4 linked regions of the Homo sapiens genome follow. The protein of the gene in region 2 purifies or fractionates together with the protein of the main gene of each other region. This does not show direct contact. Each region holds a gene or a part of one and is shown on either strand. Other genes may lie near its edges. The genes, in order: SLC12A7, LGALS9, ATG9A and SLC12A2.

Evidence for each region.
Region 1: the proteins of LGALS9 (region 2) and SLC12A7 purify together in Homo sapiens (affinity purification with mass spectrometry; 4 studies listed by BioGRID and IntAct, with this or other methods). This does not show direct contact.
Region 3: the proteins of LGALS9 (region 2) and ATG9A purify together in Homo sapiens (affinity purification with mass spectrometry; 4 studies listed by BioGRID and IntAct, with this or other methods). This does not show direct contact.
Region 4: the proteins of LGALS9 (region 2) and SLC12A2 purify together in Homo sapiens (affinity purification with mass spectrometry; 4 studies listed by BioGRID and IntAct, with this or other methods). This does not show direct contact.

The regions. Positions count from the first base shown.
Region 1 is NC_000005.10:1,109,057-1,116,699, forward strand, and holds the start of SLC12A7 (solute carrier family 12 member 7), read right to left. Parts: upstream 3,008-7,643; 5' UTR 2,936-3,007; coding exon 2,812-2,935; intron 1,546-2,811; exon of another isoform or gene 1,464-1,545; intron 1-1,463. UniProt on the Homo sapiens protein: Mediates electroneutral potassium-chloride cotransport when activated by cell swelling. May mediate K(+) uptake into Deiters' cells in the cochlea and contribute to K(+) recycling in the inner ear.
Region 2 is NC_000017.11:27,634,171-27,641,189, forward strand, and holds part of LGALS9 (galectin-9), read left to right. Parts: intron 1-4,092; coding exon 4,093-4,184; intron 4,185-6,401; coding exon 6,402-6,603; intron 6,604-7,019. UniProt on the Homo sapiens protein: Binds galactosides. Has high affinity for the Forssman pentasaccharide. Ligand for HAVCR2/TIM3. Binding to HAVCR2 induces T-helper type 1 lymphocyte (Th1) death.
Region 3 is NC_000002.12:219,226,618-219,234,406, forward strand, and holds the start of ATG9A (autophagy-related protein 9A), read right to left. Parts: upstream 3,020-7,789; 5' UTR 2,918-3,019; intron 1,869-2,917; 5' UTR 1,817-1,868; intron 1,437-1,816; 5' UTR 1,408-1,436; coding exon 1,305-1,407; intron 1,197-1,304; coding exon 1,153-1,196; intron 317-1,152; coding exon 252-316; intron 1-251. Other genes in the region: tRNA endonuclease ANKZF1, read left to right, coding at 3,641-3,788, 5,311-5,423, 5,643-5,745, 5,873-6,066, 6,462-6,574, 6,669-6,816, 7,098-7,326, 7,516-7,671. UniProt on the Homo sapiens protein: Phospholipid scramblase involved in autophagy by mediating autophagosomal membrane expansion. Cycles between the preautophagosomal structure/phagophore assembly site (PAS) and the cytoplasmic vesicle pool and supplies membrane for the growing autophagosome.
Region 4 is NC_000005.10:128,079,552-128,086,779, reverse strand, and holds the start of SLC12A2 (solute carrier family 12 member 2), read right to left. Parts: upstream 3,015-7,228; 5' UTR 2,826-3,014; coding exon 2,070-2,825; intron 1-2,069. UniProt on the Homo sapiens protein: Cation-chloride cotransporter which mediates the electroneutral transport of chloride, potassium and/or sodium ions across the membrane. Plays a vital role in the regulation of ionic balance and cell volume.

The sequences.
Region 1 (7,643 bases), on a different chromosome or scaffold from region 2:
ACAAGGCAGGACCCACCCTCTCCCAGCCCAGGGAGCCCCAGACGAGTGGAAGTCCCTCCTAGACAGTGGGTGGCCAGGGCCTGTGGGACCTTGACAGAGGCTCTGCACGCTGCACCTTCCAGACAGGCCGGGGCACTGGCCAGCCCTCCTTTCCCACCCCTCCCAGGGTCTCCGAGGCCTCTGGACGCACCCCTACAACCTGGGAAGGAGTGAGTCTACCCTGATGTGGTCACGGAGGAAGGGTGGGCTCCCCCAAGTCAGTTACAAAACCCACTCTACCCTGAAGTCGGACGAGACGCAGCCGGCCCCCAGCAGTGTCCTCCCACCTCCTACTCTCAAAAAACCACCCCACTGAGAAACTGAGGGTTAACACGTCCTTCTCATTTCAAGACGAGGTATTTCACATAAGAATAAAAGCTCCGTCCCAAGAAGTGCTGAGGGCACAGTGCCCATCCCCGGGACAGGACGCCTCCCGCAGAGGCTCCACCAGAAGCAGCAGGGAAGCTGCAGGGGTCGGGGACAGAAGGCCCCTGGAGCCAGGCTGGGCAGACGCGGCCTTGCTGGGCTCTGGGTCGAGCCAGGCAGCCCGGGCAGCAGCATCTACCCCTCTTTCCCCAGAACCCCCCAACCCAGGCTGGGGACACCAAGGCCCCTGCTCCTCAAGTTGGGGTGGCTCAGGACGCCCTCTCCACGCCCACCTGGCAGTGCCTAGGATCAGCCCACCAGGCCCCCCAAACTTGCTTCGCCGTCACCCAGGCGCCAGCCCAGAAGCTCCAGTACCTCCACAGACCGTTCAGGGGAACGGCAATGGAGTCAGGAAGAGCTTGGGTGCTGGTAACTCTGTGGCCGGACAGTTTTGGACCTGGCCTGTGACCTTGTGGTGTGGACCCCACACAGAAGGCCTTTGGGAGGGGCTCCGGCTTCTGCAGGACCCCCGCCCCCAACCACCACCAAAAAGCAAAGCCTGTGCCTCCTTCCCCAGGCTCCGTGCCCATCACGGGACTCCTCGCCGCACCTCTGTGGGCTGAAGATCAGGATGTGATCAAGTGGATTCCGAAGGGCAGCTGCGTGCCCGTTACAGCCTGGCAGTGGCTGGGCACCGGGCCCTTTCTGTGGAAGTAGGAAGCGGGTCCAGCACAAAAGCGCCAGGTGCAAGTTCTCTGCCAGTTCGGAGAAATCTCCCAAGTTCAGCTCACACCACAGGGCCACCCTCAAAAGTGTCCAGAAGCCCACACCTGGCCCATGCCCTCCCGTTCTCAATTTCATGAAGGCCAGGGAGCCTCCTGACACGCCCGTAGCAGGACCTGAGTGCGCGGGCAGCGACATGGGCAGCGCTCAGCCAGGGCCACTTCCTGCTGGGCAGACACAGGCCCAGGGCACTGCTCAACAGCCTTGAGAGTAGAAGAGACAAGAAAACGAACAAGCACAAAATTCTCTCTGGCTTAAAAGCAAATGACACTTACAGTCTAAAGACAAAAGTGAACCTGATCAGCCTTGAGAAGGGGCCGGCCAGACAAGAAGAGGCTCCTTCTGAGTGCGTTCCGGGGGCGTTGCTACAAAGCTCACACAGAAAGACCACGCCAGGGCCCACACTCCTTGGTGCTTCCTGCCTCCACGGTGGTGACTGGAGAGAAGGGGCTTGGACTCACGGACCCTGCTTAGTTAGCACTTCACCTGGTGTTGAGCCTGGCGCCCCGCCTGACCACTTCCAAGATCTGGGCTGGCCTCTGTGCAGAGGAAGCTGAGACCACTCTTCGCCCGCCACGGGGACCCTGATGACGCACCCCAGGCCACCAGGCCACTGCCTTCACGGTGGGTCCCCACCCGTGTCTCCGGGTTCCTAAACTGCCTGGAGGGGATGTCTGGCCTTTCCTGCCCGGGATGGTGGGTTAGGAAGGATCTGGGGTCTGGCACCGGACTTGTCCCTGGACAGACCTCACCTTCCTTCCACTGCCAGGGAGCAGGGAGGCTGCCACCCACTGCATGAGACCCGGGCACATGCGGGCACTGCCAGCACGCGGGGTGGGGGCTGGACTGAGTCCGGACACCTTCTCAGAGACTCCGGATGGAAGGGCCTAAGAGCCTCCGGTTTCTAGAGGGGGCTGAGATCCGGGGAGTAACTGGGATTTGGAGCCAGGATGGAGGGAACAGGGCTGGGGGATTCTCTCCCCAGCCCCGTCCCCACCCCCTAGAGAAAGTGAAAGTGCTAGAAACCTCCAGATTCCCGGAACGGGGGACGGGAACACGGAGGACGCGGCCTGAGCAAGGCCCCGGTGGCTGCCCCCTCCCCAGCCAGGGCGCAGTCCTTCCTGTTCCGCCTCTGGGGGGTGGGCGGCTCCTCCAGGGTCAGGCGGGGGCAGGACGGGCCGGCCCGGGCTAGTGTTACCGGACGGCCGCGGCGCAGGGGAAGGGAGAGCGCGGGGGACGCAGGACGCCCCGGCTCCCGAACCGCCCGGGTCTCCACCGCCACCCCTGTCCCACTAGGGACCACCCAGGGGCCCGGGCTCCCTCCGGAGGCGCGCTCCAGCCCCTCCCCGTTTCCATGGCTACCAGCAGCGGCGTCCACACCTCTGCCCCCGGTCCCACCCGAGCTGACCGTACCGGGAGCCCTGGCAGGGCCCCTCGCCCCCTAGCGCTGCCACTAACGTGGGGTGGGGGCCCTCGTGGGGGACCGAGAACAGGCGGTGGGGGCGCGGGAAGGGGCGCCTCCTGTACCCCCGGCCCCGCCGCCCGCCTCCGCTCCCGGATGCCGGGCCCAGACCCGCGCTCGGGGCGCTCGGCCTTTGTCCGGCCAGGTGCGGCCGCGCTCACCCGGGCTGGGGCGCTCGGGCTCGGGGCCCTCGGGGGTGCCCGGAGCCTCCGTCCGCTCGGCAGTCTCGTCCCCGCCGCCGTCGGCGTGAGCCTCCACGGGCACCACGGTGAAGTTGGTGGGCATGGCCGCCTGCAGCCGACAGTCCCCGTCCCGGCCCGGCCCGCGCTGCGCCGCTCCCGCCGACGCCACGGGACTTGGAGGCAGGGGCGGGGTCCGACCGAGCCGCCCCGCCCCGCCCGGGCCACGTGACTTCACCTGCTTGCCCCGCGGCCCCACGAAAAGTTGGCCCGCGGCGACTTCCTGCAGGGACCCCAACCCAGGCTGCGTCTGTCTGACCGCCGCGACCCGGGACGCGGGGCTTTCGCTGCCTGCGCTCCCGACCATCGCAGAGCCCGCGAATCCCCGCTCAGTCTCCTGCACCCCCTCCTGCTCCAGCCCCCTGCCCCTCCTGCTGGAACTCCCCGCCCTCCCCGCCCTCCCCGGCCCCCTCCCCGCCTCCCCTCTTGTCCCCTTCCCCGACCCCCCACTCCTGCTCCAGCCCCCTGCCCCTCCTGCACGCCCTTCTGCTGGAACCCCTCACCCCTCCTGCACCCCCCCACCCTTCCTGCACCCCCTCCTGCTGGGCCCCCCTGCCCCTATGAACCCCCTCCTGCTGGAACCCCTGCCCTTTCTGCACCCCCTCCTGCTGGGCCCCTCCTCCTTCTGCGCCCCCTCCCGCACCCCCTCCTGTTTGCCCCCCATTTCCTGCTCCAGCCCCCTACCCCTCCTTCTTCCCCCTCCTGTTCCCCCCTGCCATCCTCCAGCACCCACCTCCCACACAGTCCGCCCACCCACTCCAGGCTGTCAACACCCGCTCAGACCCTGGGCTCCTAGCCTGGCTCCTGGCTAGCCCAACCTGGCTGCAAAGGCAACTCCAGTGGAAGGAGCCTTGGATAGCCTGGGGGTGGGGTACTCCGGAGCTTGGTCCAGCTCCAGTTTAGGGACCTAACCCAGTAGAGGGAGTCCCCCCCCCCACCCATGACAAATACCACCCACGAAGACCCCAGTCTCCTCCACACCTGCCCCAGGAGTGCCCCGCGGCCCCTGCCCTAGAACCCTCCCTTCCCTCCTTGGGAAATGTTCCAGAAGCTCACAGGGTGATGCAGGGAAGGTGGAGTTCCAGAACCCACCAGGCAGACACCAGGATACCACCGGCCAGCACCTGGCACATTTCTCAACAAATGACTCATGAAAAACGGAACAATCAGATGTCCGTCAATGGGGAATTGGGCTAAAATGCTATGGCACACAGGTGCAATGAGTCAGCCTTTATTCCTAATCACCCACAACTGCTGTACGACAACAAAGCAGAAACACAGGTGGTGTGGGCAAACACGGCCACAGCCTCTTGTCACGTGGAAAATGGGTATGGCCTGGCCATGTTTTAGCCGCTTGCCTGTCTAATCCTAAAAGGCAGCTGGAGGGGAGTGATGGCCTCCGGGCTGTGGGATCACCGGGCTCTGTGGGTTCAAGGAACGCAAGCCCAACCTCTCCAGCCATTTCCAGTAAAGCCAGTCATGCCCTGGGGTGGCCTAGGGTTCTACCCCTTTGCCCCATGGACTCTTCTGGGCAGAAGCTGTAGGCCTGGGACCCTCCTGGAACGTCGCCCATCCAGCACCAGCCCTTGCAGAGGTGGGGGTTCCTCTGGCCTGGGTGTCTGGAGCTGTGCCTGCTCCACACTCTCACCCCACCTCCCACCAAAGGGAGCTCAGGGCTGTGGATGGTGCTAGGTCAGCTGCCTCCCTGGGTCAGTGGGTTGGAAGGTAGGAAACCATCACCTCCCCAGAAGATAAAATAGTTCCCAGGCATCCTTATGAGGAGGGCTGGCTTTGCTAAAAAGATCCAGGGGGTGGGAACAGAAGTGCCCAATGGGGTCAATTATAGGGTTCACACTTAGGGTGCTGGGTAAACCCTCTCCTCAGTCACCCCAGCAGGGGCTTCTGTACATTCAACCCTGGTTGCCACCCAGCGCTATTCCCGAGGGTTGGACAGAGCTCAGGGTGGGCACGAGGCCTTCCCAAGTGATGCCAGCAGGAGCAACAGATGTGCAGGGCTCCCGTCGCACATCCAAGCTCTGCTTCACACCCCAGGACCCCAGGGCCGGCTGCCCGCCATGTGCTGGCTGTGGACCTTCAGAGGAGCTGGTTTGGAGGGTCTGTGGCCAGGGCCAGCTCCCGGACTCAGGACTCATCAGCTTCATTTTACAGAGGAGGAAACTGAGGCCCAGGAGTTTAGGGTCCTGTGGCAGCTCCGAGGGTGGTCTTCTCTGTGATTACAAAATCTTGACTAGGACCAGGGGCCATGGCTGAAGCACCTGGGTGGGTGCCCAGCCCTGCCAGGCAGAAGGCAGGTGGCTTCTCTTGTTTAAATCTTAGATCTTACTTGTGGGAGACCTCGGGTGGGGGGTGAGGTCTGCTGCCTTTTGCATTCTAATCAGGTGAGTCACGACAGGGATCAGCACCCTGTAAGCACCTGCGGGTCAAGACAGAGACCCTTGCCGGAGCCCAGAAGCCGCTGCAGGCCCCTCCCATCCCATCAGTAGCCCATCCCTAGGGGTCTGGTGGCCCCTCCCTTCGCTCTGTGGGTTTCCGTGTCCACGTATATCCTCCCACACGGCAGCCTGGGGTTAAATGTGCGTTGTGTGACTTTCAGTGCTCTCTTCCTACCCACCTCCATCCCTCTGTCCTTTTCTGTACCCGGCACCTGTTGTAGGAAGTGGCCCTCGGACACGTGGAGGTACCCGAGGCCTGGGTTGGAGCTGCATCTTTCGGTGCAGGCCTCTGCGTCTCCTGGAAGTGGGCACCTGGAGCCAGGGGACTGCTGGGATCCGGGTCCAGTCCCCTGGCAAGGCCGGGGGCTCGCAGAGGGAGCCACGCACTGTCTGGTGGTAGCTCCTCCGTCCGCAGTCGTTGGTGCTTGATGTCTGAATCGACAGATTCATGGAGCAAAATGGTGATTTTCCAGTGCGTGGTGGCTTCGTCATGAATTCACTGGAGGGAGAGGCTCATCTTGTCCGTCTGGCCATCTGGATAATGGTGCCCACAGGAAAGGCAGGGCAAGGGTGCCTCTCCCTCATTTGTCAGTTTCCACAACGGTGAATTGGTTCCCGACAATCTCCCAAGTATATTTGTACATCGCTGATGAAACACATTGGTGGGTCTCAGTCGATCACCATTAGTGCCCTTTCCAAGCATCGGTGTCCAGCTTTGCCCAGGGGGCCTCTTCAAATGCAATCTCGCATCCTTATGATGTGAGCCTGGTCATCTGCGATGGCCTCTTGGCCGTGTGCAGGGCACAGCCAGGGGAACCCTGGGATTTAGTGCGAAAGTGTAGCCGATGGTGGTTACATTCTGTGTGTAGATTCTCGAAACAGTCCCTGCTGCCTGCCACCCTGGGGTGGAGTTTCTAATGGATTAGGACGGACACCCAATGCCAGCTTCCAAGCCAGGAGGCCGCTCGTGCCCACGGCTTGGAATCAGGGCTGTGGCCTGGGAGGGCTCTCACCAGACGCAGGCTGCCTCCAGGTATCTGTGTGCCTCTGCCCACGGAGCTTCTCCCCAGGTCCGCGGGTCCCCCCAGTCCACTTCTGCTTTCCTGTTAGGGTGGGGGGCTCATCTCCTGGTGCGCCATCTGCATCCTTCTGGGCTGGGAACCTGCTGTCGGGTATCAGGCAGGGCGCACCTCCAGGGCTGAAGGATGCAGGTGGGGCTGGCAGGCAGAGTGTCCGTGGAGAGCTCCGTGTCCAGGGAAGGGGACACCTGGAGGAGGCCGGCCCTGGAGGCCCCACACTCCTTCTCACCAGAAAGCCACCCGCCTTCTGCCTGGCAGGGCCGGGCACCCACCCAGGTTCTTGCCTGTTGGCCCAGCACCCATGGTGAGTGGGGGAGAGAGCGAATAGGGCAGAGCAGAAGAGAGAGGGGAGGAAGGAGAATCGGGGGAAGGGGGAGGGAAAGGAAAGAGGTGGGAAGGGAGGAGAGGGAAGGGAGGCCCCAGTTACCCAAGGCTAAAGTGATTTTTAAAAAACAAACCTTTTTTTTTTTAAGCGTGGTGAGCCTCTCCTGGCAGGGTGGGGTATGTGGACATCAGTGGAGGAAGCAGAGTCTCCGGCCACCTGTGGGACCCACACTCTCCCTGCCCAGGAGTCCCACCAGGGCCGAGAATTCTGCCCATGGCCAGGGTGGCCCTAAAGCCCCACATCCGCCACCACCTGTGGGGGCTCGAAGGGAGCTGTGGTAGGCAGGGATGACAGAAGACCCCAGCCACAGCCCCAGGCCCATGGCTGCATCTCCCCTGAAGAAGCAGCCCTGTCCCAAGGGTTCTGCAAACAATGCCAGGCTCTTCCCAGGCAGGCACCGCAAGCTGCCCCCCGCCCCGATCCCTGGCTTGCCCAGGGCGGGGCCTCTGGGCCTGGTGGATGGTGGGCCTGGCCTGGCGCTGGGGAGCCTGTCTGCACAGTGGCCAGGTACGTGGGGTTCTGAGCCTCCCCCGGGTCCTGTGCCTGCTGGGCAGGGGTACATCCCATGGAGCTGAATCTGGGAATAGAAGGGGCCTCCCCTCCCACAGAGCTCGTCTCAGACCATCTGTGTCTGAGACTGTAAGTGACGCCAACAGAAGGTCAAGCTTGAGCGACAAAGCTCTCAGTCCTGTAATTCACGGACACTGAGTCTTCGCTCAAGTTCCCTCTGGAAGATTCCGTGGATGAGTCCGACACACTCTTCCCCTCACTCAGGAGGCTCCAGGATTTTTAGACCACGTGTGTGGCTTTCCTTCTCTCAAAGTGTAACTCACATAA
Region 2 (7,019 bases):
GGGGAAAATCTGTTTCTTTTCCTTTTCCATCTTCTAGAGGCTGCCTGCAGGCCTTGGCTTATGACCCCTCCTGCCATCTTTAAAACCAGCAGCTTTGGCTGGGCCCAGTGGCTCATGCCTATAATCCCAGCACTTTGAGAAGCCGAGGCAGGAGGATCTCCTTAATCCAGGAGTTTGAGACCAGCCTGGGCCACAAAGTGAGACCACGTCTCTACAAAAAATAGACAAACATTAGCCAGGTGTGGTGGTGCATGCCTGTAGTCCTAGCTACCTGGGAGGCGGAGGTGGGAGGGTCACGTGAGCCTGAGGAAGTGGAGGCTACAGTGAGCTGAGATCGCGTCAACACACTCCAGCCTGGCTGACAGAATGAGATCCTGTCTCAAAAAAAACAAAAAACAAAAAACGAAAACAAACAAAAACCCCCCAAAAACGCAAACCAGCTTCTTCTTGCTTCTGTGCTTCTGTTGTCACATCTCCTACCTCTGACACTGATCCTCCTGCCTTCCTTTTATAGGATCCTTGTGATCACATTGGGACCACCTTTAAAATCAGGACAATCTCCCCATGCCAAAATTACTAATTTAATCACATCTACAAAGTCCCTTCTACAACATATTCACAGTTTCCGGGGATTCGAATGTGGATGTTTCTGGGGGGTGGCCCACTGGTAACCAGTGTTATAAGTTTCTTATAAATCCTTCCAGATATATTTTATCTATAAATAAATAAATGCAAGTCCATAGACTTCCCCCACCCACTTTTTATACAAATGGCATCATTCCATATCAGTGCTCAGAGTTCTGTCTTCCTCTTTTTCTTTTCTTTTTAAGGCTACACAGAACCTATTAAATGGAAATACCCTAATTTATTTCACCTTTTTCCTGTCAGAGGACTTTTAAGCTCTTTCCAATGCTTTGCTTTATAATCCTTTGTGTTATAATGCTGCAATGAATAACCTTGTTTGTAGGATGATATTCAATTTAAAAACTCATTTTTCAGGCCAGGCATGATGGTTCATGCCTGAAATCTTGGCCCTTTGGGAGGCCGAGCCGGAAGGATCACTTGAGCTAGCCCAGGCAACACATAGAGACCCCATCTTTACAAAAAATATTGTAAGATTAGTGGGACATGGTGGCCTGCACCTATTTTGTCCCAGCTATTCGGGAGGTTGAGGCGGGAGGATTACTTGAGCCAGGGGGTGGAGGCTGCAGTGAACCATGATCACAGCCCTCACTGAACTCCAGCCTGGGCAACAGAGTGAGAACCCATCTCTAAATAAATAAATAAATAAATAAATAAATAAATAAATAAATAAATAATCTTGTTTTTCCGAATTTTGGGGGCACTATTTAAGATATTTTGAAACCTCACAGAGCTTTTTTGGGGAACTTGTTGCCTTGGAGATTAGCCTGTCCTGTCCCGCCCCCATGATCTGTACTTCCTCTTTCTCCCTCCTGGCTTCCTTAATTAAGCCTTGTGTGTACTTGCCAGCCCATGTCCATCACGCTCTGCCTTCAATTCTAGATGCTGTGCTGTGAATACACTTAAGTGGAGGCCGCATGCTTCCCAGGAGGGTGTGTATTTTCAGTGTTGTGTCTCATGATAGTATGAAAGGCTCTGGAGAGAATCACAGGCTTCCACAAACAGGCAAGGAGAAAAATGTTCCACAGACATGTTTCAGGGAAAACAGGCTTCCCAATCCTAGGCCGTGCTGGTCCATAATTGGATCAGGCTGACTCTCCTTCCCCTACACTGCTGGTGTAGACAGGGACAAGAATGAGAAGTCAGAGACACAGAGAAGCTGTGATTTGCTTGAGGTCACTAAAGTACTTAATGGCAGAGTTCAGACCTGACCTGAGGGGCAACAAAAGACACCCCCCTCAAATCCATGGGGAGCAGAGTCTAACTGAATCAGATCCCAGATTTCCTGGGGCTCTCACGGTGCCAGGTGTGTACACTGAGCTAGGATGGGTTTCCCAGGGTTCTGTGTGGTCACACAACTCAACAATACAGACCAGAAAGCAGTGGCAAGTAGGCTGAATTTGGCTGGTGGGTGTTTTCTGTTTGGCCTGCACAGTGTTTCTTTTAACGTTTTATTATAGGAAATTCAAACATGCAGAAGGAATTGTACCATCAACAACACACACCCATCACTCTGCTCCAACAATGATCAACTCAGGCCTATCTTGCTTCATCCTATACCCTCCCTCGCTTGCTTCCTTCCCACCCTCAGATATGTGGAAGCAAATCCAAAGATACCATTCCATTTCAAATATTTCATTTTGTATCTCTATAATATGGGAATTTGGGGGGTTTCAAGACAGGATTTCACTTTGTTGCCCAGGCTGGAGTACAGTGGTGTGATCATGGCTCACTGCAGCCTCCACCTCCCAGGCTCAAGGGATCCTCCCACCTCAGCCTCCCAAGTAACTAGAGTTAAAGGTGTGCACCACCACACCTAGCTATTTTTTTTTTATTTTTTGTAGAGATGGGGGTCCCATTACGTTGTTCAGGCTGGCCTCAAACTCCTGGGCTCAAGTGATCCTTCTGCCTCAGCCTCCCAAAGTGCTGGGATTATAGATGTGAGCCACTGTGCCCAGCCAGGAGCTTTTACATAATCCTTTTTGACAAATTTTCCCCCAAGAAATTAGAAAGTTTTATAGAAAAAAAAAATCCGGACTTCTGTCTTCTCTTAAAAATTTGGAAGCTCTGCCAATACTGGGCCCAGATGGCAATCACTGCTTAGCACGGAGTAGATGTTGACTTTTCAGATGAGGGGTGTGACATCTACTTTGCCACAGTCCCCACCACTCCCCCACCTGGCCATCTCACCCATACACATCACCTGCCTGGCTCCTTTAGGCATTTAATTTGTGTAGGAAATTGACCTAAAGGAGATATTAGAGAAGACATTAAAAACTTGAAGAATGTGAAAATCAGCCAGGAGATAGAACTGTGCTTTAATGCGGGTTATAGAACGACATTGGATATGAAGCATTTTGGGAATAAACTTTGAAAATTGGAAGTACCAGTTTGTGAATTTTGCTGAGAGAGATGAAGGTGGGGGGTGGGTGACAGTGGTGAAGCATCTCCTATGTGCCAGTCTCTTTTACCACAGGCTGTTTCTCACAAAATCATCAATCATATGCAGCAGGTGAAACACCTTCCTATTTTACAGATGAGGAAACTGAGGCACAGAGAGGTGAAATAGGCTTCCCAAGGTCACTCAGGTCATGAGCAGCAGAGCTAGGATTCAGACCTGGAGTTGGCCTGACTCTAAAACGATGCATGCCTCACCATGGCCCATCACTCCTTTAAAGAGCACCAGAAGAGAGAATTTGACAAAGTGGTTGCCCGTGGGGCCTGGGATGGGTGGGGAAACCACGCTAGGCCTCGGGGCTGCTGAGGGCCTGAGGGAAGGAATGGGGAGCCCGGGCACAGAAATAGAGGAGGGGGCTGCCCCACGGCTACAGAAGGCATCTGGGAAGACGCTCTGCTGAAGGTGGCCAGGAGGGCAAAGGTCACAGTGGCCATTGTTATATGGTGGTGGTGGGGAGAGGGGGATGGCTTCTTCTTAACCTCCTCGGGTGAGTCGAAGGTTTACCCTCCAGACCCTTGATGGGTCCCTTTGGTCCCTTGGGCTTCCTGAGTCTCCAGCCAGGGCCTGGGACCTTTGCTGGGAGCTTAGCATGGGGTCCAGCAGCCCCCATTGCTACCTAATTCCTTAGCAGCCCAGGGTGTCTGCCTGCTACTTCCCTGCCTGGAAGGAAGGCCTTCTGCCTGGTGCATTCCTGCTGCAGCCTCCACTGCCTCTTAGACTCTCACACAAGCTCAGCTCCCTGTCGCGTCCTCTCAGGGCCAGGCTTCTCCTTATCACAAGCTTAGACTGTCTGAGTAACTAATTGGATTTGTGTTTGCCTCCACACAGGACCCTAAGACCCGTGGGGCTGCGACTCCCTCTGTACTGGTCACAGCCGCACCCTATCCCCTTGCATGGGGCTGTCAAACCCAGGCTGGCCACTGACTAGCGCTGGAGGGGAGCAAACGGGAGGCCGGCCACCTGACTGATGTTCCCACACCTTCTCCCTGCAGGCTGTCCCCTTTTCTGGGACTATTCAAGGAGGTCTCCAGGACGGACTTCAGATCACTGTCAATGGGACCGTTCTCAGCTCCAGTGGAACCAGGTGTGTGTGTATATGGATGGAAACGTTTCACTCCAGCCTCGTCCCTTAGTAAACCACTGTGCCTGTGAGCCTGGGTTAGTTCAAACAGCAACATCCAAGCTCACGTGCCTGGCTCAGGGGAGGCCCAATGCGTCCCTAACCCATGCCACAGGGCAGCACTCCACAGGCACAACCTGCACCCAGGGGTGCCATTAACCTGGACTCCAGGATGAATGGGGCCCTGGGAGCTGACGGTCTAAGGAGGGCGTGGGATGGTCAGAGTTGGATGATTATGTTCTGGGTTGAACCTTGCACACTGTGACTAAGAGTTGCAAAAATCAAACTTCCTCCATTTCCCGTAACTGCTCTCATCCACTCTGAAGCTCTCCTTCTGCTGATGTGAAAATATTGAAAATTGCCATCAAAAGTAATTTGGTCTCTTTTGGTTTCAAGGCCTTTTCTAGAAACTACTAAGTCAATTCAACATACTAACATTGTATCAGGGCTGTTTCCCACCCCCTCCTCCCTCCCAAGGTGGGCTGTCTGGGAACAGAGAAGAGCTCACATGGCTTCTCAGTGGCTGGGAGGGCTCTAGACCCTCACTCAGGCCTGGCTGACCCCTGCCGAGGCACCCCGACCGGGTGGCACAGAGGTGTGCAGCTCTCTCCTGGTTTAGTGGGGGACCATGGGTGGCTGCCTGCTGAACTCTGCGGGGCCCACAGAAGAGCCTCTGGACTCATGACTCTCTCTCGGAAGCCTCTCTGCCTCAGTCCCAGGGGACCTCTCCTTAAGACCTTCTGGGCCTCACAGATCCCAGCTAAACCTCAGCTTGGACACCTAGATTCTTGGTGACCTCCTCCGCCATTGCCATCCTGCTGTGGGACTTCTCTGAGAGACTGCGGTGCCCTCAGGAGATGCCAAGGGCAGGGAGGCCCCGATCTCCCTGAACCCTCCAACCAGGGGAATCAGGACCATGACCCTGATCTTCCGCCCCTTCCTCTCTCCCTCTCCCTCCACCTCCCCCACCCCCCAGCACCAGGAGGGCTTCCCACTCCCATCCTGTCATATAGAGACAGATCCTACCTCAGAGGGCCCTCTCCTCTTGGGAGCTTTCTGTCTCTCCCTTCCTTGGGGCAGGAATTTCGAAAGGACTACAGGGATGAAGCTGAAGGACTCCAAAGGAAAAAATACATGCAGATATATTTCAAATGCAATCTTCTCCATTTATTCATTTAATTAATTAATTTTTTTCTTTTGAGACAGGGACTTTCTTTCACCCAGCCTGGAGTTCAGTGGTATGATCATAGCTCACTGCAGCCTCAAATTCCTGGGCTTGAGTGATCCTCCCATCTCAGCCTCCGGAGCAGCTGGGACTACAGGAGTGCACTATGATGCCCAGCTAATTATTATTATTATTATTTTGAGATGGAGTCTCGCTCTGCCACCAGGCTGGAGTGCTGTGGCGCTATCTGGGCTCACTACAACCTCCGCCTCCTGGGTTCAAGTGATTCTCCTGCCTCAGCCTCCTGAGTAGCTGGGACTACAGGCTCATGCCACCATGCCTGGCTCATTTTTTGTATTTTTAGTCGAGACGGGGTTTTACCATGTTGGCCAGGATGGTCTCGAACTCCAGACCTCGTGATCCACATGCCTCAGCCTCCCAAAGTGCTGGGATTACAGGCGTGAGCCATCATGCCCAGCCAATTTTTTTTTTTTTAACTAGAGATGAGCTCTCACTATGTTGCCCAGGCTGGTCTCAAACTCCTGGGCTCAAGTGGTCCACCCGCCTTGGCCTCTGCGCCCAGCCCCAATTTCACATGCTCTTTACATTTGTTCTCTTCTTTCCCATTTAATCAGGCATGTGCTGGCCTCCAACAAGTGTCCACTGGCACAGAAGGCTCTCTCTTCTAGGTGTGCTTAACAACTTCCATCTTCGGTATCAATTGGTAATCACTTTCCAAGACCTATGTTTCTTGTTTGCTAATACCAGCACTTTTCCTTAACCGTTTTCTATTTGCTTTTAGCAAATCATGCTGTAAAGGCAAAATCCAATAATTAAAACAAAAACACATTAGATCCCAATTAGAAAAACAAAAACGATGCCAACAAAGCAGTCTCTGCCATACAGGTTGTGTGCAAGATCCAGACAAATGCAAAGCACAGGCGCCGAGGCCCTCCTGTGCCTGTCACTGGCAATAATCCATGCCACAGAAGACTATTTGCTTTCCCTGGGCCTAGGTTTGCTGTGAACTTTCAGACTGGCTTCAGTGGAAATGACATTGCCTTCCACTTCAACCCTCGGTTTGAAGATGGAGGGTACGTGGTGTGCAACACGAGGCAGAACGGAAGCTGGGGGCCCGAGGAGAGGAAGACACACATGCCTTTCCAGAAGGGGATGCCCTTTGACCTCTGCTTCCTGGTGCAGAGCTCAGATTTCAAGGTGAGCAAGAATCCCCTCCCCACCTCTCACCCCTGGGACCCCCAGCCCTATCAGGTGAATGGCCTTTAAGTAATCACCTAAATTGACATTCAGCCAGAGTGACACCACTATACAGATAACACGCTCATTTCCTTGTGAGGTGTTACCCATGGCTGCCTAGTCTCCTTATGCACCTTCATCTGAATCTACAGGTGCACCTGCTGCTTCTTTTACTCTGAAAATAAGAACTAGAGGAGTCATCACGTTGCTATTTGGTGTTGTGTGTCTTTGAATTCCAAGCTCATTCCATTCCTCTGCTATAGCCATTCCTCCTCTCCAGGTCACTGGTAACATTTATTTTTCAGCGACATCGTTCCAGCCTTTATCCAGGGTCTATTAAGGGTATAGTTTTGTAAGCACATTGCAAATTACCCTTG
Region 3 (7,789 bases), on a different chromosome or scaffold from region 2:
GCAGAGGTTGCACCGAGCCAAGACCACTGCACTCCTGCCTGGGCGACAGAGTGAGACTCACTCCATCTCAAAAAAAAAGAAAGGTGAAGCTGTAAGTTTTGGTGCCACACCCAGTCCCTGAACTACAAAGGTTTACGGAGTTTTAGCCTAGGACTGAGTTGTACTGGCAGGTTGGGCCAAGTGTGAGTGCAAGGAGAGGAAAGACTAAGATGTATTCTTTCACCACATCATCTGTCCCTTCTTATACTTACATGAGCTCAAAGATCTCCCCGATGAGCATACATGTGAAGCCATTCTTCTGGTGCAGATTATAAACGTGTAATTGTTAAGAAAAAGTAGTCAGTAAAGAAAGCAGGTAAGAGCACAGACTTTGGTGTCAACACACTCAAGCTTAAGTCCTGGCTCTGTGACTTTCTAGCTGTGTGACTTTACCAAGTTACTTAACCTGTCTAAACTTTTGTCTGTCCATGGTGGTACATTAGGAATAAATAACACTTGTCTCATAGGAGTATTAGGTCTAAGATAATGCATGTAAAGCATTTAACACAGAGCTGACACAGAATGAGTCAAAAGACGTTACTTATTACGATTATTTACATCCCATCAAAAAGGAGGCTCGGCTGGGTGTGGTGGCTCACGCCTGTAATCCTAACACTTTGGGAGGGCAAGGCAGGTGGATCACTTGAGGTCAGGAGTTCGAGACCAGCCTTGCCACATGGTGAAACCCTGTCTCTATGAAAAATACAAAAAATAGCTGGGCATCGTGGCAGGTGCCTGTAATCCCAGCTACGTGGGAGACTGAGGCAGGAGAATCTCTTGAACCCAGGAGGTGGAGGTTGCAGTGTGTTGAGATCGCCCCTGGACTCTAGCAGCAACAGAGACAGACTCCATCTCAAACAAAAAAAAAAGGAGGCTCACCCTTAGAAAGGCTTCTACAAATTAACACCACAAAGTGGACACAGGCACACAGATCTTGGTAAATGTGGGCTATCATTACTTAACGATGATTTCACCAGCCTCTTTCAGCCTCAGGATGAGCTCCATTCCCGTTTCCAGGTATTAGAGTCAAACCTACCCCCACCTCCCACCAGAGCCCCGGCTTAGAGAGACATTAAAGGTCCCAGAGCTCCAACTCAGAAACACAAAGGATATTCGAGAGAAGAAGAGGTCAAGGTTTTCAATATGGTGCCAAGGTGCTGTGGGATAGGAACAGAGATGTCAGAGCCCTGGGAGAACACAAGCCCCTTGCTCTCTCCATGTTCTTCCATCAACTCTCCCTATGGCTGTCATATCCAAGAACTCACACTTGCTCCCCTCGGCGACGTGCACCAACAGGTCCTCCTCCCCTGGGGGTGAATCACTATAGGAGGCCTCTAGGCGCTGGTATTCAGTGTCAAACTGCGCCATCACCACCGCCCCCTGTCCACCTTGACCACCTGCCAATAAGGAGGAAGAAGAGACCCTGATTCAGTTCCAGCTGCTGCCCATGGGCTGCCCTGCCTACTGCCAAAAGGAGAAAGTACCCTTGGGCTTTGTCCACTACCAGCCTCCTTGGCTCAGAGGCAGAGGAGTAGTGACACAAGAAAGGCAGTAAGCTCAGGGCTGGGGGAGCCTTAACTCTGGCCAGTCTGGGTGTCTACTGCTGCTTTCCTGGCCCAAAGCCAGAATCTGTCCCTTTGTTGGGGGCTGTTTCATCTTCTATTTAACGGACAGAAGAGTCCCTCCCCCGCCCATCCTGGGAACCCTGGTCTCCCAAGAGACTAACAGTTTGGAAGCACTTCACAAACAAATGTTTGAGAAAAGCACATGGCCCTACCAGCTCCATGGACAGTATGTGCTCCTCTCCAGCCCTCGATGCTCTGCAGCTGCTGGAGGAGAAGATGTCAGGCCCCAGAGAGTGGGCAGTGGGGATAAAAAGGAACCCAACCCTCCCAGCCATCCACACCCCACCAAGAGGAGGCCAAGCATGGGGCAGGAAGGCTGCAGTGGGGAAGAAGCACCCTTCCAGCCCAGGACTACGAGCACTTCCTCTGGCTGTGCTAAACCGGGCCACTCTTCCAACTCCAGGGTCTCAAGAAGTAACTTAGGGACCCCATGGAGAATGAGTGGGTACAGACCTGAGGCCAGGGGCGCCTCTGGACTATTTCTCCATTGCCCTACCTTAGCCTCAGAAATGACATACTTCTCAGGGTCCACAAAACCTCAAGAGTCTTTCCTGAAGAGGACCTTTCTGGTCAACCCCTTCTCTTACTTCCCTAGCACCAAAGATCCAGCCGGTGAGCAAACCTTCTGGATGGGAAACCTTGACTGGGTCAGTGTAGACCCCCGATCCTAGGTGAATTTGTGGGTTCCCTAGGTCCTGTAAGCCAGGCATGGTCGAGGTGGTACTCACCTGTCCGTGCAGCCCCTGGGGGCCGTGGATCTTGGCCCAGCCTGGCCCCGGTGGGATTCCCTGGGCTAGTGAGAGCCCTGCCCCTCAGGGAAGTCACCACTCACAGGGTCAGTGTGGACCAGGGCCCGTGGAGCCCCGGCCGGCTGGGCCTGGGCTCAGGGGTTCCTGCGGATGTTGCAGGGATCGAGTCAGCCTTACAGCTGATAGCCCGGGTGGGTTGGCTTGCCTCCCCACACCCAGCCGCGGCGACCGTGGACCGGAGTCCACCTCGCCCCAGGGTCGCCCGGCCCCAGGCCAAGGGCTGGCAGCTCCCAACAGCGGACAACCTCGCGCGCGGCCCCGGCGCCCGCGCGCGCCCCCGTCTGCGCGCGCCAGCAATCAAAACATTCCGGCTGCGCGCCCCCGCCCCGCCGGCGGCGCCCCTTCCTCCGTTACCCGCCGCGAGCTCACTTAGGGCTCCGCAGGCACCCCTGGGCAAGGCCAGACACGGGGCCTGGGATTCCAATAACCGGTCTCACGTCTTACCTCAGGAACAGCGACCCGGGTGATTCCAGAGGCTCCGCCGGCTCCGCTCGGCTCGGCTCGGCTCGGCGCGACCCGCGGCGCTAGGCCGGGTGTCTGCCACTCACTGTCACCCGCAGCCAGGCTGGCCAATAAGCACGGGGGGCGGAGACACAACGGCCAATTCTCGGCTTCAGGGACGGGACTAAAGTCTCGAGGCGGGTCTTGGACAGTCAGCGGCCCAATAGTGTGCTCTACGTGGGGCGGGGCTCAGGTGCGGACGCCGCCGGTTGTCCTCTTCGCTGCTCCGTAGTGACGGGGATTGTTGTGTTGCAGAAATCCGGCAATCGACCTGAGGACTTGCGAGCCGCTCAGCTCCCGGGACGTTTGGTGCGTCTTCTAAGGGCGTGGGCGAGTTTACGCGGGCCAGTTGTTGCTGGTCGCATGGGTAACGAAGAAAGTTCGGCTAGGCAAGCTCAGTGATTTTTAACTCTGTTGGACTCGATTTGGGAGCCGAATGCCTATTTCATTCTTTTGTGGGCTGAGACTGGGGGTTTGAGAAAGTGGACGGGGGCCAAGGTATTCATCTCACAGTTGGTAGCAGGATGAGAGACGAGAAGTCTTGCGGTGCAGGAGAAACCAAGTCAGGCAGGCAGGAGACGCAGCAGTAGGATCTCGTTTGCAGGAGCCCTGTTTCTTACACGCTTTCTACTCCAGGAGCTGCTGCTAAATAATTTCTGCTCAGCCATGTCGCCGGCTCCAGATGCAGCCCCGGCTCCTGCGTCGATCTCCCTGTTTGACCTCAGCGCGGATGCTCCGGTCTTTCAGGGCCTGAGCCTGGTGAGCCACGCGCCTGGGGAGGCTCTGGCCCGGGCTCCGCGTACTTCCTGTTCAGGTATCCTGGAAGGTTTCGTGTGAAACGTGACAGGGCTCCTTACAGCGTATTGCCCGTTCAGGGAACACATTCTTATTGGTATTCCCGAGCTTAGGAGGCCAATTGATTTATCTTTCTGCTTGATTAAATTCACTTAATCTCTGGGTAATGTCCAGCACAGCCCTTGTTTTCAAACAAGTCTTTTTGCCATTGCATGTATCTCCTCACGTTAACACCATTCCCTTCAAAAACACTTTAAACTTTGTAGAGATAAAATTCTCAGATGTATTCCACATTTAACCAGGCCCCACTCAAATTATTCCTTTTTGCTGAATATGAAACAATTTATTATTTGTTTCGTATAGCTTTATTTTTTGAGAGTCTCGCTCTGTCGCCCAGGCTAAAGTGCAGTGGCACGATCTCCACCCACTGCAATCTCCGTCTCCCGGGTTCAAGTGATTCTCCTGCCTCAGCCTCCCGAGTAGCTGGGACTACAGGCCCGCACCACCATGCCCGGCTAATTATTGTATTTTTAGTAGAGACGGGGTTTCACCATGTTGGCCAGGCTGGTCTCAAACTCCTGGCCTCAAGTGATCCGCCTGGGTCAGCCTCCCAAAGTGCTGAGATTACAGGCATGAGCCACCGTGTCGGTCCTGTTTTGTGTAACTTTAGTTTGGCTACATCTTTTCTTGCACCTCTCCTTAGACAAACTGTACACTAATTGGAAATGTAAACTTTAAAAAGCATTTGGGAAGTAGTTTTTGTGCAGTGAAAAATAATTTTAAACTGAACAGAAATTATTTTCTTTAGGATTCACCTAAACAATCTGTTTGGCTAATTTAAATTAGACAAGACTCAAACTCAGCCAGTGGGGAGGACTTGCAGACGCTGGATCTCGGGAGAGGGCTACGTTGGAGAAGTTTAACCGACCCCAAGGCTTTTACCCTCATCGGATTCTTTTCCAGAATGCCCAGGGCCAGTTTTTATTTACATTCGTTTTATTTATTTTATTTTTCTTCATCTTTTTTGAGACAGAGTCTCGTTCTGTTGCCCAGGCTGGAGTGCAGTGGTGTGATCTCGGCTCACTGCAAGCTCCGCCTCCCCGGTTCATGCCGTTCTCCTGCCTCAGCCTCCCAAGTAGCTGGGACTACAGGCATCCGCCACCACACCCGGTTAATTTTTTGTATTTTTAGTAGAGACGGGGTTTCACCGTGTTAGCCAGGATGGTCTTGATCTCCTGACTTCATGATCCGTCTGCCTTGGCCTCCCAAAGTGCTGGGATTACAAGCGTGAGCCGCTGCACCTGGCCAATTTTATTTTATTTACATTCATTTTACGTACATGTTTTCAGAAGCATGTTTATTGCATTAAGTGATTGCTGTACTGTTTATTTCATGACTATTAGAGTGTAAATTCCTTGAAGGCAGTATCATGCCATCTCTTTTGTATCCTCCTCTGCTTTGTATATCACACTCTGAATATAATTCTTGTCACTGTGGATTTGGGCTCCCTTTCTATGTCCAATTCCTCTTCCCTTATTTAGGCTCAGGGGAGAGAGAAAGCCCAGAAAGAAAGCTACTCCAGGGTCCTATGGATATTTCAGAGAAGTTATTTTGTTCAACTTGTGACCAGACCTTCCAGAACCACCAAGAACAGGTAATAGGTCAGGTGCAGAGCTAGATGTTAGAAGCAAAAGTGTAATGGTGGGTGGGGAGAGGTAGACATTTGATTTGTCTTAATAAAGGTCCATGCTTTGACTGAGGCAGTTGGTGTTACCTGGTTGTACTTCCTAGAATACTATAACTGGTCTTGGCCAGTACAAGGCCAGGCTGGGGCATATTTCCACCTTTATCTCACTCTTTGTCTTTGTACTAGAGGGAACATTATAAGCTTGACTGGCATCGGTTTAACCTAAAGCAACGTCTCAAGGACAAGCCTCTCCTGTCTGCCCTGGACTTTGAAAAGCAGAGCTCCACAGGTGATGAGTGGTAGGGGGACCTATGTAGGAGTAGGACATGGAGGTATAAGAAAGCACTAGTTTAGAGTTTGAGGAAAGAACAAAAATGGGGTACCAAACTTGTGTATCTCATATTGTCTGTCTTCAGGAGATCTTTCCAGCATCTCGGGATCAGAAGACTCAGACTCAGCCAGTGAGGAGGACTTGCAGACACTGGATCGGGAGAGGGCTACATTTGAGAAGTTGAGCCGACCCCCAGGCTTTTACCCTCATCGAGTTCTTTTCCAGAATGCCCAGGGCCAGTTTCTTTATGCCTACCGCTGTGTCCTAGGCCCTCATCAGGCAAGTGACAGTACAGGTTGCATGGCTAACCCCAGCCTTTTGTACACCCAGCCTAGATTTCCCTTAGCCTAGTGCATTTCTCCCTGCTTCTCTTCCTTCCTGTTGGTTGTGGGTATCACGCTTGACAACATAGTCTTGAATTGAAACTGGCCTGAATTGTGGAAGGGTTAAGTGTAATGGAATTAAGTTTGGAAACAAACCAATTTAGGTTTGAATTGTGATTCTACCACTTCATCTTGACTGCCTCGCCAAGCCTCAAATTTCCTTGTTTGTCAAATGGAAACAAGCCTCAGGGTGGTAATATTAAATGAGATAATGTTTGTGAAAATTGGCCCTTAGTTTCTTGCTCTCAGTGAATGCAACAGATATGTTTCTGATGCTTCTCTGTCATCAAGGATCCCCCAGAAGAGGCAGAACTGCTGCTACAGAACCTGCAAAGTAGAGGTCCCAGAGACTGCGTGGTGCTCATGGCTGCAGCTGGGCACTTTGCTGGTGCTATATTTCAAGGGTGAGAGGGTGCTGCATGGGGGTAAGGATGGAGTGGATCCTGTTAGCCAGGGAGCACCAGCTGGTCTCCAGTACTGAGTCTGTGCTGTCTACAGAAGAGAAGTGGTGACACACAAAACTTTTCACCGCTATACGGTTCGGGCCAAGCGGGGCACAGCCCAGGGGCTTCGGGATGCCCGAGGTGGGCCATCACACTCTGCTGGAGCCAACCTGAGGCGCTACAATGAAGCCACACTATATAAGGTGAGTTAAGCCTTTTAGATCTGGTGGTACTGATCCATACTTTTTTTGCATCTCTGTTCAACTCACTGTTAAGTAGGGAGGTTTTTGACTCATATCCTTCCAATTTTCATTATAGGTAGACAAAGGTAGATGAGGGATTCCCCAGGAGCCTTAGTCCTCTATTCTTTCTCCGTGTTATCCTCTACTTTCCACCCCTTGCACTTCTGTGGGCCATTTTTTTTAGTTGGAGATTTATAAATAGCAAGTGAAGGTATGCAGGACTGAGTTACTCTCTTCTCTAGGATGTTCGTGACCTGCTGGCAGGGCCAAGCTGGGCTAAGGCGCTGGAGGAGGCTGGTACAATACTGTTGCGTGCTCCCCGCTCTGGCCGGTCTTTGTTCTTTGGAGGCAAGGGAGCACCCCTGCAAAGGGGGGATCCCCGACTTTGGGATATCCCCCTCGCCACCCGCAGACCCACCTTCCAAGAGCTACAGCGTGTGCTCCATAAGCTGACCACTTTGCATGTCTATGGTGAGCCTTTGCTCCAGATCCCAATTCCCTAGACCTTCCTGTTCTCTCCAACCTAAGCCTCCATTCTCATTGGTATATCCAGAGGATTTTCTAAGCCTTGGACTGCAGCCCAGCTACATCTGCATTGAGAGAAACCTGCGCTAGCTTCTCCTCAGCTAAGGTTGAGAAAGATCTTTTCTTTTATGGCAGAAGAAGACCCTCGGGAAGCAGTCAGACTGCACTCACCTCAGACACACTGGAAAACAGTAAGAGAGGAGAGAAAGAAGCCTACTGAGGAAGAAATAAGAAAGATCTGCAGGGATGAAAAGGAAGCGCTGGGGCAGAATGAGGAATCTCCCAAACAGGGTTTGATTACTATCTGGCAACTGTCAGATCTGAGTTTCTGTCCTAAAAATGCACTGGCAAATTCCCTACTCTCATAACTGACCCATTTCCTTATTTAAACACACACCCACAGTGTCTA
Region 4 (7,228 bases), on a different chromosome or scaffold from region 2:
TGATGTATAGTCATATTTGTACTACTTAACACCCATTTCTTTAATCCATCTGCTAAAATTCTAAGCAAAATTATCTTCAACATGTAGTTATTAGTTAAGCCAATAAAACAGTGGCCATAAAGATTATGAGTGGCAGAAGGTAAACTACAAAGAATTAAAGTACCTGTTGCATAAATGAAACTGAACATAATATTTATATACTACATTCACCTAATAACGTAAGAATTAACAGAATCTAAAATTGAGATCCTAGAGTCTTCTGAAGGGCCAATATAAGAGGGAAATAACAACTAGGTATTATTTTCCAGGCACTGAACATGGTCATTTTTATTGCGCTTTTTTTCTAATCTTCATGATAACCCTGAAAAGCTGAAGCTAAGAGGTTGGGTGATTTCTTCAACTACCATACAACTAACAGTACAGGTGTTGTTTTTTAGATACTTTGAACCAAAAAGCCAAGCAAAAAACACAAACACACAAATCTAAAGTTTTGGAGAACTTGAAGTGCTTTGTTATTGAGATAATTTAATTTAAAGTAGCAAAAACTTCCCTAGGAAGCATATAAGCTCAACATATATACCTTTCAATTGGATGTCTTTCTAAAACTTATGGGTAAATACAGATCACTTTACTGCTCACATACTTGGCTTTGGTAAAATAAATCTAAAATATATCTGTATAATATTTTCATTAGTAAAACTGTCCTAAGATAATGAAAATTGCCAGCTCCATATCTACTTTTGTCTACAATGATTTTTGAGTTTTGAAAAGAAAAAAGAATAGACTTGATAGAAACTACAGGAGTATGAATAAAAAATGTTTTAGACATTGTTTTGCTTCTGATTATGACAAAATACCACAATGGAATAACAAGAATAGTATTATCTAAAGCTAAATGATCTCAGGCTTTTAAACAATCAATAAGCTGTAAGAGCTCTGTAATTACCTCTGTGTGAATGTTACATTATCAAACACTGGGACAAGTACAATCTTGTATGAAATCACTGTATGAGATCAAATAATCATATCCAAAAGAAATCACATACTGGATTTAAACTTGTCCAAACTGTGATCATTTCAACCTATGTGGTACCATCCTCTTGCGTTCACAAATTCCATCAATGTAGTCATTACACACTTGTAAAGGAAGACTTCAAGTAATCCCGGCTCATAAAAAAGTTAAACATTAACGAAATCTCAAAAGCATCAATGTTATCTCAAAACAGTGACATTGAACGCTGAAGAAATAAGTCTTATGTGACCATAAAAAATAGTTACAAAAATCAATGAGTTTATGGGGATGGTTTTCTGTTTACAAAGTGTAACTGCTTATGGCAAAGACCCCACAGGTCTTTCTGGTCATCCTCTACAGAAAAACCAATTCTCCTGTTTCCCTTTTTTCTTTAAAGACTCGCCTCTGTCCCTTTTTTTTTAAATATACACCTCTCCCAAAACGTTTTCATCGCAAAAAAAAAGAGTTATGCCATTATTAGGAACAGCGTGTCCCAAGACAAGATCTCTATGATCCTTTGTATATTCAAGATTGCAAGAATTGAGCTTTAATAACTCATAGACCATAAACACACCCTGTTAAGGTTTTCCTTCAAACAGCAACATTCCCACTCTTGCGATCCCTAATAGGCGTACATAAGCCACACAACACAATCTTTCAAAACGACACAGATGGTAGGTGCTCTCCAACCTCTCTCGAGAGATCCTCACTGCACATTCTCCTCTAAAGGGCCCACAAACACTACTGTCATTCAGAGGGATGGTGACTGTTGAGCGTGGGTGGGAAAGAAAGTGCACACGAGATACCTAACTGGATGGGGAAGGTTGTTAGAGGCAGCCCTCCGGTATCACGTAACTAGCCAAACCCGCTACAAACTTTTGAGAGATTAAGTTAACATTCCTCGGCAATTCCACCCTTGACAGCTGAATCCAGAGATGCCAGCAAGTCGTGCACGTCTACTACTCCCGCCACCTCAACTCGGGAAGAGTCTGCAGCCACATCCCGCGGTCGGCATGCACCAGGGGCTGGGGAAGAAGGGAGGGCTGGGCGAGCTCACCTTTTCCAGCTCGTCGTGGAGCTCCGCCAGGCTAGGCCGGAGCAGCTTCTCGCCCAGCTGCGCGGCTGTGTGCCGGTAGTGATCGATCCTGGGCACAGCGTCCATGGTGTTGTGGCCGAAGGTGCGCAGGTAGTAGGTGTTGGTGTGGGTATCATAATAGTAGTGCTGGTGGTGCCCACTGCCGCCGCCGCCGCCGGAGTGCAGGCTGCTGCCCTCGCTCAGCACCGTGTCCCCGCCGTTCTGGAAGCTCACGTTGGGCCCGTCGACTCCGACCCCGGCAGCATCTGACAGGCTGTCTTCAGCCGACGAGGAGGCAGCTGGGTCCACGAAGTTCACGCGGAAGCGGCCCTTGGCTTCCTCGCTGCCTTTAGCCGGCTCGCTCTCGCCGCTGGCTTCCCCGTCCGCGGGGGTCTGCTTGGCCCCCGCCCCAGCACCAGCCGCCGCCGCTGCCGCCGCCGCCGCCGCCGCCGCAGCAGCGGCCCGCCCGGCGTTCTCGGAAACCAGGTCCACCTGGAAACGGCTCTGGCTCGGGGTGGGCCCCAAGGGTCTGCCCAGCCCGTCCCCGGCCGCCGCGGGGCCCTCATCGCGGACCCCGCCGCCGTCCCGGCTCGCGGGCGCAGCATCCTCCGGCACCGAGGGCACAGCCGTGCCGGGCAGTTCCACCCTGGCTGCGGCCAGCGCAGCGGCTGACGGCGTCTCCCCGACCCCGGCCAGTCCCGGGGCGCCGGAGGAGGGCGCCGTGGGCCGCGGCTCCATAGCTGCCCGACCCCCGGCGGAACTGCAGAGCCCGGCGGACGTCTCCGGCAGCACGCCCTCCACACCCCTGGCCGGCGGTGGCCACAGCCGCAAGACCAGGTGAGAGAGTCTTTCTCCCCGCCGCCTGCGGGCCGCCGCTAGCCTGGACGGCCACAGAGGCCACCGGCAGCCGAGCGAGCGCGCGAGTGTGGCGGGCGCGGGGCGGGCCCCGCTGTTTAAAGCCTCGGCGGGGCTGCGGCGGCGGCGGCTCCGGCAGCAGCACGCGGGAGGCGGGGCCGGAGGCTCCTCCGCCCCTCAGCCCGCCCACCCGCGGTCCCGCAGCGGCGCGCGGCTGACGCTCCCTCAGCGATCCGGCCCTCCGCGGCTCCTGCGCGACCCCACGCAAAAGCGCCCCGTGCGAAGAGCGCGGCCAGCCAGTCCGCAAAGGGCCTCGGGCAGTGCGGGCAGCACGAACGGCGCGATCGGGGAGCAGGCGCGGCTACGCTCCGCCTCAGTGATGTCGCCGGGAGGATCTCCGCGCGGCTACCTCCTCTTCCGCCGCCTTCCTCCCACGCCTTCACCTCCCTCCCCCGCCGCGCTCTGCGGCGAAAAGGAGCGGGCTCCCAGGCCACCTCCCCTCTCTCCACCCAGGGGCCGCGCGTCAGTGGACCTGCAGCCCAGGCAACGGGGCTGCGGACGGCGCGCGTGCCCTGCCTCGCCTCACGCCGGTAGCTGATGCTCCCGCGGCAGCTGCCACCCCAGCGCCCCAGCCACGGCTTCAGAGGCTCTCGCACGCTGGCTTTTTTTTTTTCCCCCCGCTTTGGTGAACTCGCAGTACTTGGGCTGAGCCCGAAATCTCGCGAGATGCTGCAGGCGTCAGTGCGGCTTCCCACTAGGCGCGTGGTACCCGAGGCCGGGCCGGAGCCGCAGGCCAGCCGCGATTCCTTCGGGCGATGCTGGGGGCTTTCCGGTCGGGGCCGCAGCCGCTTCCGGAGCCGCGGGCGAGGTGCGTTCCCCAGCCTGGTTTGCTCTGGGCTCTGACCCGCCGCCGCGAATCTCCGCTCGTAACTCCGGGCCTGAACCTGGAGGAGGGAGGATTTCCTCTGTGCAGCTTTCGAGCGGTAGACTCACCCTGCCAGGCAGACCTAGATTGGCATAACCAGAGATCAGTTCCAGTTGTGATGCAGTGGGTGTCTACACACTTCTGATGACACCTTTATTTTAAAAGCTGATGTTCCAAGGTGAGAAGGGAGCTTCTTTGAGACGTCATGTTGTTTCAAGACGAGTTTTAATTTAAGGCATTTCCAAAAGTGATATGCAGCTCATCTCTCAGAATACAATGCCGGCAATAACTACCCGTGGAGTCCTTACCAGGAGGTTTCTGCGTGATTTGGGTTGTGCAGAATTCCTCTGCTTATATAGAAACAGAAAGGTACTCCTCTGCAGGTCTAGTTTCTCTTCGGTAAAATGTAAGGGAATATAACTGTGTTCCCACTTTCTTAGCAGCAGAAATTTTTAAACCTATAGATTATGCCCAAAGTCCTAAGTAAAATCAATGAATGGCGTCCTCCAATTACTTGGTTTTTATTTATGTACTTTTTTTTTTTTTTTTTGAGACGGAGTCTCGCTCTGTCGCCCAAGCTGTAGTGCAGGGGTGCGATCTTGGCTCACTGCAAACTCCGCCTCCTGGGTTCACGCCATTCTCCTCCTGCCTCAGCCTCCTGAGTAGTTGGGACTACAGGCGCCCGCCATCACGCCCTGCTAATTTTTTGTATTTTTAGTAGAGTCGGGGTTTCACCGTGTTAGCCAGGATGGTCTCGATCTCCTGACCTCGTGATCCGCCCACCTCCGCCTCTCCAAGTGCTGGGATTACAGGCATGAGCCACCGCGCCCGGCCCTTGTATTTTTAAACTTTGACTTTATGGAGACGAACACCATCGTTTGCTGAACACTTGAAACATGATGAAAGAGCCACAGAGTTGGCAGAACTGTTTGAAAATGCTGTAAGTAAAAGCTGCAACCAGGCAATTTTCAAAAAATTGTCATAAACATGATCTTACTTGAACTTGACAACTTTTCAGGCTATTTTATTATCTCTATTTTTAAAGACGGTGAGAGGGGAAAACAGCTGTTGCATCAGGATTTTTAAAGCTCCTTTTGAGCTTTAGTAATAACCAGAGGAGGCCAGAAAAATGAGGTGGTCCTTTAAGCAGTGCAGTTTTCTACTAGGGAATTGCTGCATTAGTAGTTGATCCGTGCAGTACCTTTCAGCTCCACAACGAATTCTGCCACTATTGGAATTCAACATTCATTTAGTTGAATAAATACTGAACAGGTACTATGAGCTACTCTGTATTTACGGGATATAGCAGTGAGCAAAACGGACAATCCCATCTCTCATGGAGTTCTTTCTAGTGAGAAAGAGAAACAATAGACAAGATAAATAGGTAAAATACATAGCATCCAAGCAGTGAGTACTAAGGAAAGGGAAATGGGATATTTGTGTGAAATGAGGATCATAAAATTTTCCATAGGATGGCCTCACTGAGAAGGTGATATTTGAGTAAGGAAGTGAGTGATATGAGTTCTTGGGAAAAAAAGTGTCTGAAGCAGAGGGAAACCAAAGACCCAAAGGCAGGAGCATGCTTAGCATGCTCACGGAATTGCATGTAAGCCAGTTTGGCTGGAACTTGCTTAAGAGATGTGAAGAATCAAAGGCAATTACATCAGAGAGCTTAGGATATGGGATGTAGTAGATCAGAATGTTTAGGACCTTTTTTGGCTGTTAGACATACTTGACTTTTTTAGTAGAATAGTGTGTTAGTCAGCTCAGGCTGCCATAACAAAATACATAGATTGGGTGGCTCAAACAGTAGAAATATATTTTCTCACAGTTCTGCCTGCTGGAAGTCTGAGATCAGAATGCCAGCATGATCATGTTCGGGTTTTCTTTTTGGCTTGCAGACAGTACCTTCTCAATGTCTCCTCAGATGATAAAGAGAGCGTTGTCTCTTTTCTTATAAGGGCACCAGTTCTGTGGAATCAGGGCTTTACCCTGATCACCTCATTTAACCTTAATTATCTCCTTAAAAGGACTGTCTCCAATACAGTCACATAGGAGTGAGGAGAGGATTCGGGCTTCAACATATTAATTTAGCAGGGTACACAACAGTCCTTGGCAGATGGCAGGTTATTGGAAGGTTTCAGTGGAGGAATGACATCTGCCATTTTTAAAGGATTCATCTAGCTGTCTTGTAGGTAGGCAAGGGATAAATGGTTGGGTCAAAGAAGCAAGGAGATGTGTTAAGAGGTATTACAGCAATCCAGGAAGTGATGATAGCGCTTTGACCACAGTGGGTATCAGTGGAAATGGGGAAAAGTAGTTGAATTCTGGGGAAACAATAGAATTTGCTGATGGATGTGAAGTGTGAGAGTCCAAGGGTTTTGACCTCAGCAACTGGAAGAATAGTATTGCTATTTTCTGAGATGGCAAAGGAGGTTAAAGGAACAGGTTTGGGTTGGATGAATATCAGGAGCTTAGTCTGAGATGTCTGTTGGAAGAAACACACAAATGTGTATTAATAATAAATAGTAGTCACTCATATAAATTTGTAACTGCAAACAGAAGTTCTAGGGGATAGGAACGTAGTATAAGGAAAATGCAAAATAGGCCAGACTTAGTCAAGACAGAAGTGACTTTTTAGCAAAGGTCTAAAGGAAAATTAGGACCAAATTGTCACTAGAGGGTTTCCAACAAGGGAAATATTGTGGACAAATGCCCTCATGGAGTGAGCAGGGACTATCAAAGAAGCAAGAAGCTTGAAATCAGTTTGGTTAAAGCATAGGGAAGGATTGGGGGCAAAAGTAGTAAGAGATGTGTCTGTATTCTAAAAGCCCTATAAAAGCATTAATGGGTTTCTGGATAGATTGAGGGGCACATAATCAGATTTGTGCTTATTAAAACTCTCTAGGCCTGGCAAGGTGGCTCACACCTGTAATCCCAGCACTTGGGAGGCCAAGGCGGGTATATGGCTTGAGCTCAGGAATTCGAGACCAGCCTGGACAACAATAATGAAACCCCATCTCTACCAAAAAAACCCACAAAAATTCAAAAATTAGTGGGGCGTGGTGGCACGCACCTGTATTCCCAGCTCCCTGGGAGGCTGAGGTGGGAGGATCACTTGAGGTGGGGGTTGTAGTGAGCTATGATTGTGCCACAGCACCCAGCCTGGGCGACAGAGTGAGACACTGTCTCAAAAAATAAATAAATAAAAATAAAACTAGTTATATTATGAGCAGAAGAGTGGAGAAGAGGAAGAATAAGCATGGAAAGTCAGGACACAATTTCACTAATCTAGCTGTGAGTTGATAGTAGTAATAGTAGTTAGCCTTTATAGAGAATTTAGGTCCTGGATACTGTGCCA